Linked DNA regions of Homo sapiens. The protein of the gene in region 2 purifies or fractionates together with the protein of the main gene of each other region. This does not show direct contact. Each region holds a gene or a part of one and is shown on either strand. Other genes may lie near its edges.

Region 1 (3,816 bases), on a different chromosome or scaffold from region 2:
TTAAATTTTTTCTCATTTTTAGAAACAGGGTCTTGCTCTGTTTCCCAGGCTGGCATGCAACAGTAGATCAGAGATCACTGCGGCCTGAAACTCCTAGGCTCAGCCGGGCGTGGTGGCTCATGCCTGGAATCCCAGTACTTTGGGAGGCCGAGGTGGGCAGGTCACCTGAGGTCAGGAGTTCGAGACCAGCCTGACCAACATGGTGAAACCCCGTCTCTAGTAAAAATACAAAATTAGCTGGTTGTGGTGGCGGGCGCCTGTCATCCTAGCTACTCAGGAGGCTGACGCAGGAGAATCACTTGCACTCCGGAGGCGGAGGTTGCAGTGAGCCACTGCACTCCAGCCTGGGCAACACGAACAAAACGCCATCTCAAAAACAAAACAAAACAAAACAAAACAAAACAAAACAAAACAAAACAAAACAAAACAAAACTAGTCTCAAGCAATCCCTCCACTTCAGCTTCCTTGGCAGCTGGGACTACAGGTGTGTGCCACCATATCCAGCTATTTTTTACTTTTATTTTTTGTAGAAATGGGGTCTCACTACATTGCCCAGGCTGGTCTTCAGCTCCTGAGTTCAAACGATCCTCCTGCCTCAGCCTCCCAATGTGCTGGGATTACAGGTATAAGCCACCGTGCTAGGCCTCAGCTTCTAATTATGCAGGAATGGTCAGTGCTTCTACAGACATTGACTGGAGGCCCCTCTTGGGTGTGAGCTGAAGGAAGGAAATTAAAAAGTACTACAGTGGCGGTGATCAAGTCATAGTACAGGCTTAGCGGCCTGAGAGACGCATATGAGGGCATGAGGCGGCTATCTGCCACCCGGGGACCCTGGCTGTCTCCACGCTGGTGAGGGTGCTGGCCCTACCATGCTTAGACGGAGATACACACAACCCCAGACTGCAGTGTCAAAAGGGAAAGAGCCCAGGGGGCAGGACTGGGGAAAGCCCCAGTGAACGGCTGCCGAGGGGAGACACCAGCTCCAGTGAGCTGGGGCAGGGGGCAAGAGCAGTGTTGTTTCCAAAACTGGGTTTCTGCTCTAAGTGGGCTGGAGTGATGCTGTACCCGGGTACAATCAGCTGCAATCTGCTTCTGGTGTTTTAGCACAGCTGCATAGACAACTTTCCAAAAACACAGGCACACGAGTTCCCTTTTTTTTTTTTTTTTTTTGGATACAGAGCCTCCCTCTGTTGCCCAGGCTGGAGTGCAGTGGCTCGATCTCGGCTCACTGCAACCTCCGCCTCCCAGGTTCAGGCGATTCTCCTGCCTCAGCCTCCTGAGTAGCTGGGACTACCGGCATGTACCACCATGCCCAGCTAATTTTGTCTTTTTAGTAGAGACAGGGTTTTGCCATTTTGGCCAGGCTGGTCTTAAACTCCTGACCTCAGGTGCCACCACTCCCGGCATATATACATATATCAGTAGAGACGGGGTTTCACCATGTTGGCCTCGAACTCCTGACTTCAAGTGATCCATCCACCTCAGCCTCCCAAAGTTCTAGGATTCCAGGCGTGAGCCACTGCGCCTGGCCTATTTCCCAATTATAAAGGGACATTGGTAACAGAGTTTCCGCATTTCAGGTAACTTAGAAGCTCCAATCCACAGCATTCTCTGATGATATGAGTCTTGTTCATTTCTTTATTTCCTATTTCAGTGCCTTAATCAGATGCAAGGCCAAGTAGAGGGAGAAACTCAGGTTGTCGGGGGCTTACACCTGGGAGGAGGCGGCAGGTACCAGGTATTAGACGTGGAAAAAGAATTTAGCATCAAAAAGGAACAACACTTTTTTTTTTTGAGACAGGGTCTCGCTCTGTCACTTAGGTTGGAGTACAGTGGTGCGATCATAGCTCACTGCAACCTCTACCTCCTGGGCTCAAGTGAGCCTCCCACCTCGGCCTCCTGAGGAGCTGGGACTACAGGTGTATGCCACCAGGCTCGGCTAATTTTTGTATCTTTTGTAGAGATGAGGTTTAGCCGTGTTGTCCAAGCTGGTCTCAAACTCCGAGCTTACGAGATCCTCCCGCCTCGGCCTCCCAGGGTGCTGGGATTACAGGCGTGAGCCACTGTGCCTGGCTGAGCAACACATCTTAGGGCAGACAGGTGAACAGACACTGTGGCCACACAGTGGGAAGACACCAACATGCTGAGAAAGCAAAACCTACCACTACCAACTACATGCAGCAACACGGGTGAGGCTCAGAGGCACAATGTTGCACAAAAGAAACCACACACAAGAGTACCCGACCTCGGATCCCGTTTAGACAAAGTTCAAAAGCAGATCAAACCACAGCGGTGGGGTTGGGACAGCGACTATCTTGAGTGTAACAACTGGGAGGGTTTGGTAGTATTCTGTTTTTTACCCATCTGGGTGCTGGCAACATAGGTGTGTTTAATGTCTAGAAATTAATGGGTACACTTTTTAAAAATAAAAAGTTAGAAACAGGCCAGTCATGGTGGCTCGCGCCTGTAATCCCAGCACTTTGGGAGGCCAAGGCTGGCGGGTCACGAGGTCAAGAGATCAAGACCATCCTGGCCAACATGGTGAAACCCCGTCTCTACTAAAAATACAAAAATTAGCTGGGCATGGTGGCATGCACCTGTATTCCCAGCTCCTCAGGAGGCTGAGGTGGGAGGCTCACTTGAGCCCAGGAGGTAGAGGCTGCAGTGAGCTATGATCGCACCACTGTACTCCAACCTAAGTGACAGAGCAAGACCCTGTCTCGAAAAAAAAAAAAAGTTAGAAACATCATCCAGTGATACAGAAGCCTAGTCCTAAGAGATTCAGTTCAGACAGAAACAAACTCAGGGTCCTGGCATTAATGGACAAAGACTTCCAGTGCTGTCAAACTTAGAAAGCAGCAGTGTCTCCCAAGCTAAGCTCCCAAACAAAGCCCTTGTGAGCGAGCGGCGAGACCTCTCTGGGTTTTCACAATCGATAAAGCTGGGCTTGGCAGGAACCTTCTTGGGGAACTCACGTGAGAACAGGAGGTCATATCTCAAGAGAGCCAACCTCTCTTGAAAATGACAGCCAGTTTTTCTTTTAGAATCTGTAGAATCTCTTTCCCCCTTTTTCTCAACTCTATAGGCTGCTGCCAGCTCCCTTCATCTAAAGAAGTGTTTCTGTATCTTTTTTCATTATTGCCCCACAAGAAGGCTTTTAAGATTTTTTTCCCTAATAGCCTCCCCAGCAAAATCTTAACATCACAGATGCACTGTATGTCTGCTCATGTACTGTATGTATAATTGTGTCTTATGCATAAAAGGAGTAAAATTCCTTCCACCCTCCCGAGAACCAATTTTCTCCCACTTCAGGGCAATATCATACTCATTGAGAATCCATGATCTGAGGTAACCATAAGATTTAATCTCCAAAAGGGATACCTCTAAAGAACAGAGGGCATTACGAATATTTATAACGGGGAAACAGGTTACCAGGAACCTCATACCAATGGCTCCCCCACTCTTTACCAACAGCAGCTGTGGGGACAGGAGTTTGTGGAAAGTATAGCAGCCGGGTCTGGCTCTTGGATTTTAATGTGGCTGGTGGGAACAGGCTACATATTTCTAATTAGAACTCCCCCAGTAGCCTGGCTCTGGGGAACTTGCCCTCACTTGCTCTTAGGTCGCAGGGAATCATGACCAGGGAAGACGACTCCAGGCCCTTGGGGTCCGGGTACACGGTGTGTTGCCCTCACCCTAAGGTAGAAGGCTGGGTTCTCAATGGACCTGTCCTTGGAGTTTTTGAGCCCCCAAGCAGGCATGGGAATCCCAGTTTTCTTCCTGTCCCATCCACCTCCTTGGGTTAACGAATGAGTC
Region 2 (3,816 bases):
TAGGCAATATAGGAAATAAATACTCCCAGTTTAAGGTGGCCTCTATTATTATTGGACTTTAGTTAGCTGGAAATGTTAGTTGTGAAAGTACTTACTTTGTAATGTCAGACAAATTAGATATTATATGTAAACTATTCACTGAAATGCCTATTTGAATTTTTCTTTCAGTATCTTGCATTTTAACCAGAGACACATATTTAATATATATAAATGAGGATTTTGAAATATTAAATAAGGCTTTGGTTAATTCTGTGTGAAAAATTATATAAGGTACTCAAAGAATCTTCGTTCTGTTTATTTATGAACACAGAAAGATATGCTTTTAAAACTCTCAAATTTTAAAATTGATTTAAGCCCAGTAGCAGAAAATACTCTTGACATTGGCAGAAGTGAATATTGTTAATATTTAGATTAATCATTCAGGATTCAGATATATCCAGATATGACATAATATCTAAACAAAGATTTCTCCTGACATCTGCTGTATTAAATTATTATAGAATGAAATAAACAACTAGATTCAAGTAGTAGATTACAACACTGGAGCCCACAGCAGCCTTGAGAGCAGATTATCTCCTCTTTTCTAGAAGTCTGGTTGATTACTGCTGGCACCAGCTTTTGAGGAAAATAAGGATGGAAGTAGAGATCCCTTGACTTGTGCACATTCTGGGAGAGAGAGTGGCCCTGGGCCAGGCTGGCTGCATGGGTCCCAATCAGTGGGGCTGCACTCCATCATGGTGTGCCCAGGATGAGGAATAAGTGACACTTCAGCTGTCGTGACACTGCTGAGGCCTCTGGGTGCCAGAGAAACATCTTGCTTCTGAGGAATTCAATTATCAGTGCTGTCAGATTAGAAAAGTGGAGATGAGCTGTGGATAATACCCCTCAGATTTAAACATTTGCAGGATGAAACAGGAGGAGCAGGTTAACGAAGAAGACAAGTCTTCAGTCAGAACAGCTGGCCAGGCACGGTGGCTCACGCCTGTAATCCCATCACTTTGGGAGGCCAAGGTGGAAGGATCACCTGAGGTCAGGAGTTCCAGACCAGCCTGGCCAACATGGCAAAACCCCATCTCTACTAAAAATACAAAAATTAGCTGGGTGTGGTGGTACATGACTGTAATCCCAGCTACTCCGGAGGCTGAGGCAGGAGAATCGCTTGAACCCAGGAGGCGGAGGTTGCAGTGAGCCAAGATTGCACCACTGCACTCCAGCCTGGGTGACCGAGCGAGACTCCGTCTCAAAAACAAACAGGCAACAAAAACAGCTAATATGTGATTCGACTGCCCCATTGCAGGATTAAGAGAGAGCATAAAGCATGCAGCACTAAGCTAGGCACATAATGGCTACCCAGTCAGTCAGGTTCGTATATAAGAGTGAGTTATCTGTGGGCTGCTTAGGTGCAAGAAGGACAAGTCGCATAATTTTCACCAGTGTCTTCATGGGCTGATGGGCTGATTTCAGTTGTTTTCACTCCTCTCCCTAAAGGGCACAGACAGCCCCATGTATGGGCTAATTCAGTTGGTGTTTTCACTCCTTTCCCTCAGGGACACGAGAGCCCTATGTATTAATTACCAGTTAGATTTTCTCTGGGTTTCAGTGACTCCTCCTGAGACAGCTTCAGGGGATGATGTGATGATGATCTCATGGTTTTTTTCCACTGCTCGTGCCTTTAACTCCCTAAAGAATCTCCAGTCTCTTTGTCTGAATTAGGTAAATAAAGCTGTTCTAATTGCTAATGGCTAGAGCTTTGTTGTTTGTGTGTGTATTTTTCTCATTTTAAAATTTCCTCAACTTGTGTGTTTACAAAATAATAAAGCTGGCGCGGTGGCTCACGCCTGTAATCCCAGTACTTTGGGAGGCCGAGGCAGGCGGATCACGAGGTCAGGAGATCGAGACCATTCTGGCTAACACGGTGAAACCCCGTCTCTACTAAAAATACAAAAAGAAATTAGCCGGGCGTGGTGGCGGGCACCTGCAGTCCCAGCTACTCAGGAGGCTGAGGCAGGAGAATGGCGTGAACCCAGGACGCAGAACTTGCAGTAGGCCGAGACTGCGACACTGCACTCCAGCCTGGGTGACAGAGTGAGACTCCGTCTCAAAATAAAATTAAAATAAAATAAAATAATAAAATAAAATAAAAAATATAAAAAGTGAAACAATACAAAAATGAATAATTTTGGCTGGATGCAGTGGTTCACGCCTGTAATCCCAGTAATTTGGGAGGCCAAGGCGGATGGATCGCCTGAGGTCAGGAGTCTGAGACCAGCCTGGCCAACATGGTGAAACCCCGTCTCTACTAAAAATACAACAACAAGAAAAAAATTTAGCCAGGCATGGTGGCTCAGGCCTGTAATCCCAGCTACTTGGAAGGCTGAGGCAGGAGAATCGCTTGAACCTGGGAGGCGGAGGTTGCAGTGAGCCAAGATTGAACCACTGCACTCCAGCCTAGGCAACAAGAGCGAAACTTCGTCTCAAATAATAATAATAATAATAATAATTATTATTATTATTTTTAACTGACTTCTATAGCTGTTATTTTCCTGTCTTTATTCACTGTTCTCTATCTTGCCTTCTAAATTTCATACCGTTTTCAGCCTCTTCTCTGTTGCACTGTTTCCAACATGGTCTTTATTTCTATTATGCTTTTGTTTTTCATTTTTATTTATTTATTTTTATTTTTTTTTAATTTATTTTTTTATTGATAATTCTTGGGTGTTTCTCACAGAGGGGGATTTGGCAGGGAAGGTCAGCAGATAAACAAGTGAACAAAGGTCTCTGGTTTTCCTAGGCAGAGGACCCTGCGGCCTTCCGCAGTGTTTGTGTCCCTGATTACTTGAGATTAGGGAGTGGTGATGACTCTTAACGAGCATGCTGCCTTCAAGCATCTGTTTAACAAAGCACATCTTGCACCGCCCTTAATCCATTTAACCCTGAGTGGACACAGCGCATGTTTCAGAGAGCACAGGGTTGGGGGCAAGGTCACAGATCAACAGGATCCCAAGGCAGAGGAATTTTTCTTAGTGCAGAACAAAATGAAAAGTCTCCCATGTCTACTTCTTTCCACACAGACACAGCAACCATCCGATCTCTCAATCTTTTCCCCACCTTTCCCGCCTTTCTATTCCACAAAGCCGCCATTGTCATCCTGGCCCGTTCTCAATGAGCTGTTGGGCACACCTCCCAGACGGGGTGGTGGCCGGGCAGAGGGGCTCCTCACTTCCCAGTAGGGGCGGCCGGGCAGAGGCGCCCCTCACCTCCCAGACGGGGCGGCTGGCAGGGCAGGGGGGCTGACCCCCCCCCACCTCCCTCCCGGACGGGGCGGCTGGCCGGGCAGAGGGGCTCCTCACTTCCCAGTAGGGGCGGCCGGGCAGAGGCGCCCCTCACCTCCCAGACGGGGCGGCTGGCCGGGCGGAGGGCTGACCCCCCCACCTCCCTCCCGGACGGGGCGGCTGGCCAGGCGGGGGGCTGACCCCCCCACCTCCCTCCCGGACGGGGCGGCTGACCCCCCATCTCCCTCCCGGACGGGGTGGCTGGCCGGGCTGAGGGGCTCCTCACTTCCCAGTAGGGGCGGCCGGGCAGAGGCGCCCCTCACCTCCCGGACGGGGCGGCTGGCCGGGCGGGGGGCTGACCCCCCACCTCCCTCCCGGACGGCACGGCTGGCCAGGCGGGGGGCTGACCCCCCCACCTCCCTCCCGGATGGGGTGGCTGGCCGGGCGGGGGACTGACCCCCCCCCACCTCCCTCCCGGACGGGGTGGCTGCCGGGCGGAGACGCTCCTCACTTCCCAGATGGGGTGGCTGCCGGGCGGAGAGGC

What was found.
Region 1: the proteins of C15orf40 (region 2) and KLHL36 purify together in Homo sapiens (affinity purification with mass spectrometry; one large-scale study listed by BioGRID and IntAct). This does not show direct contact.

The regions. Positions count from the first base shown.
Region 1 is NC_000016.10:84,651,195-84,655,010, reverse strand, and holds part of KLHL36 (kelch-like protein 36), read right to left. Parts: intron 1-3,816.
Region 2 is NC_000015.10:82,994,543-82,998,358, forward strand, and holds the end of C15orf40 (UPF0235 protein C15orf40), read right to left. Parts: 3' UTR 275-3,816; downstream 1-274.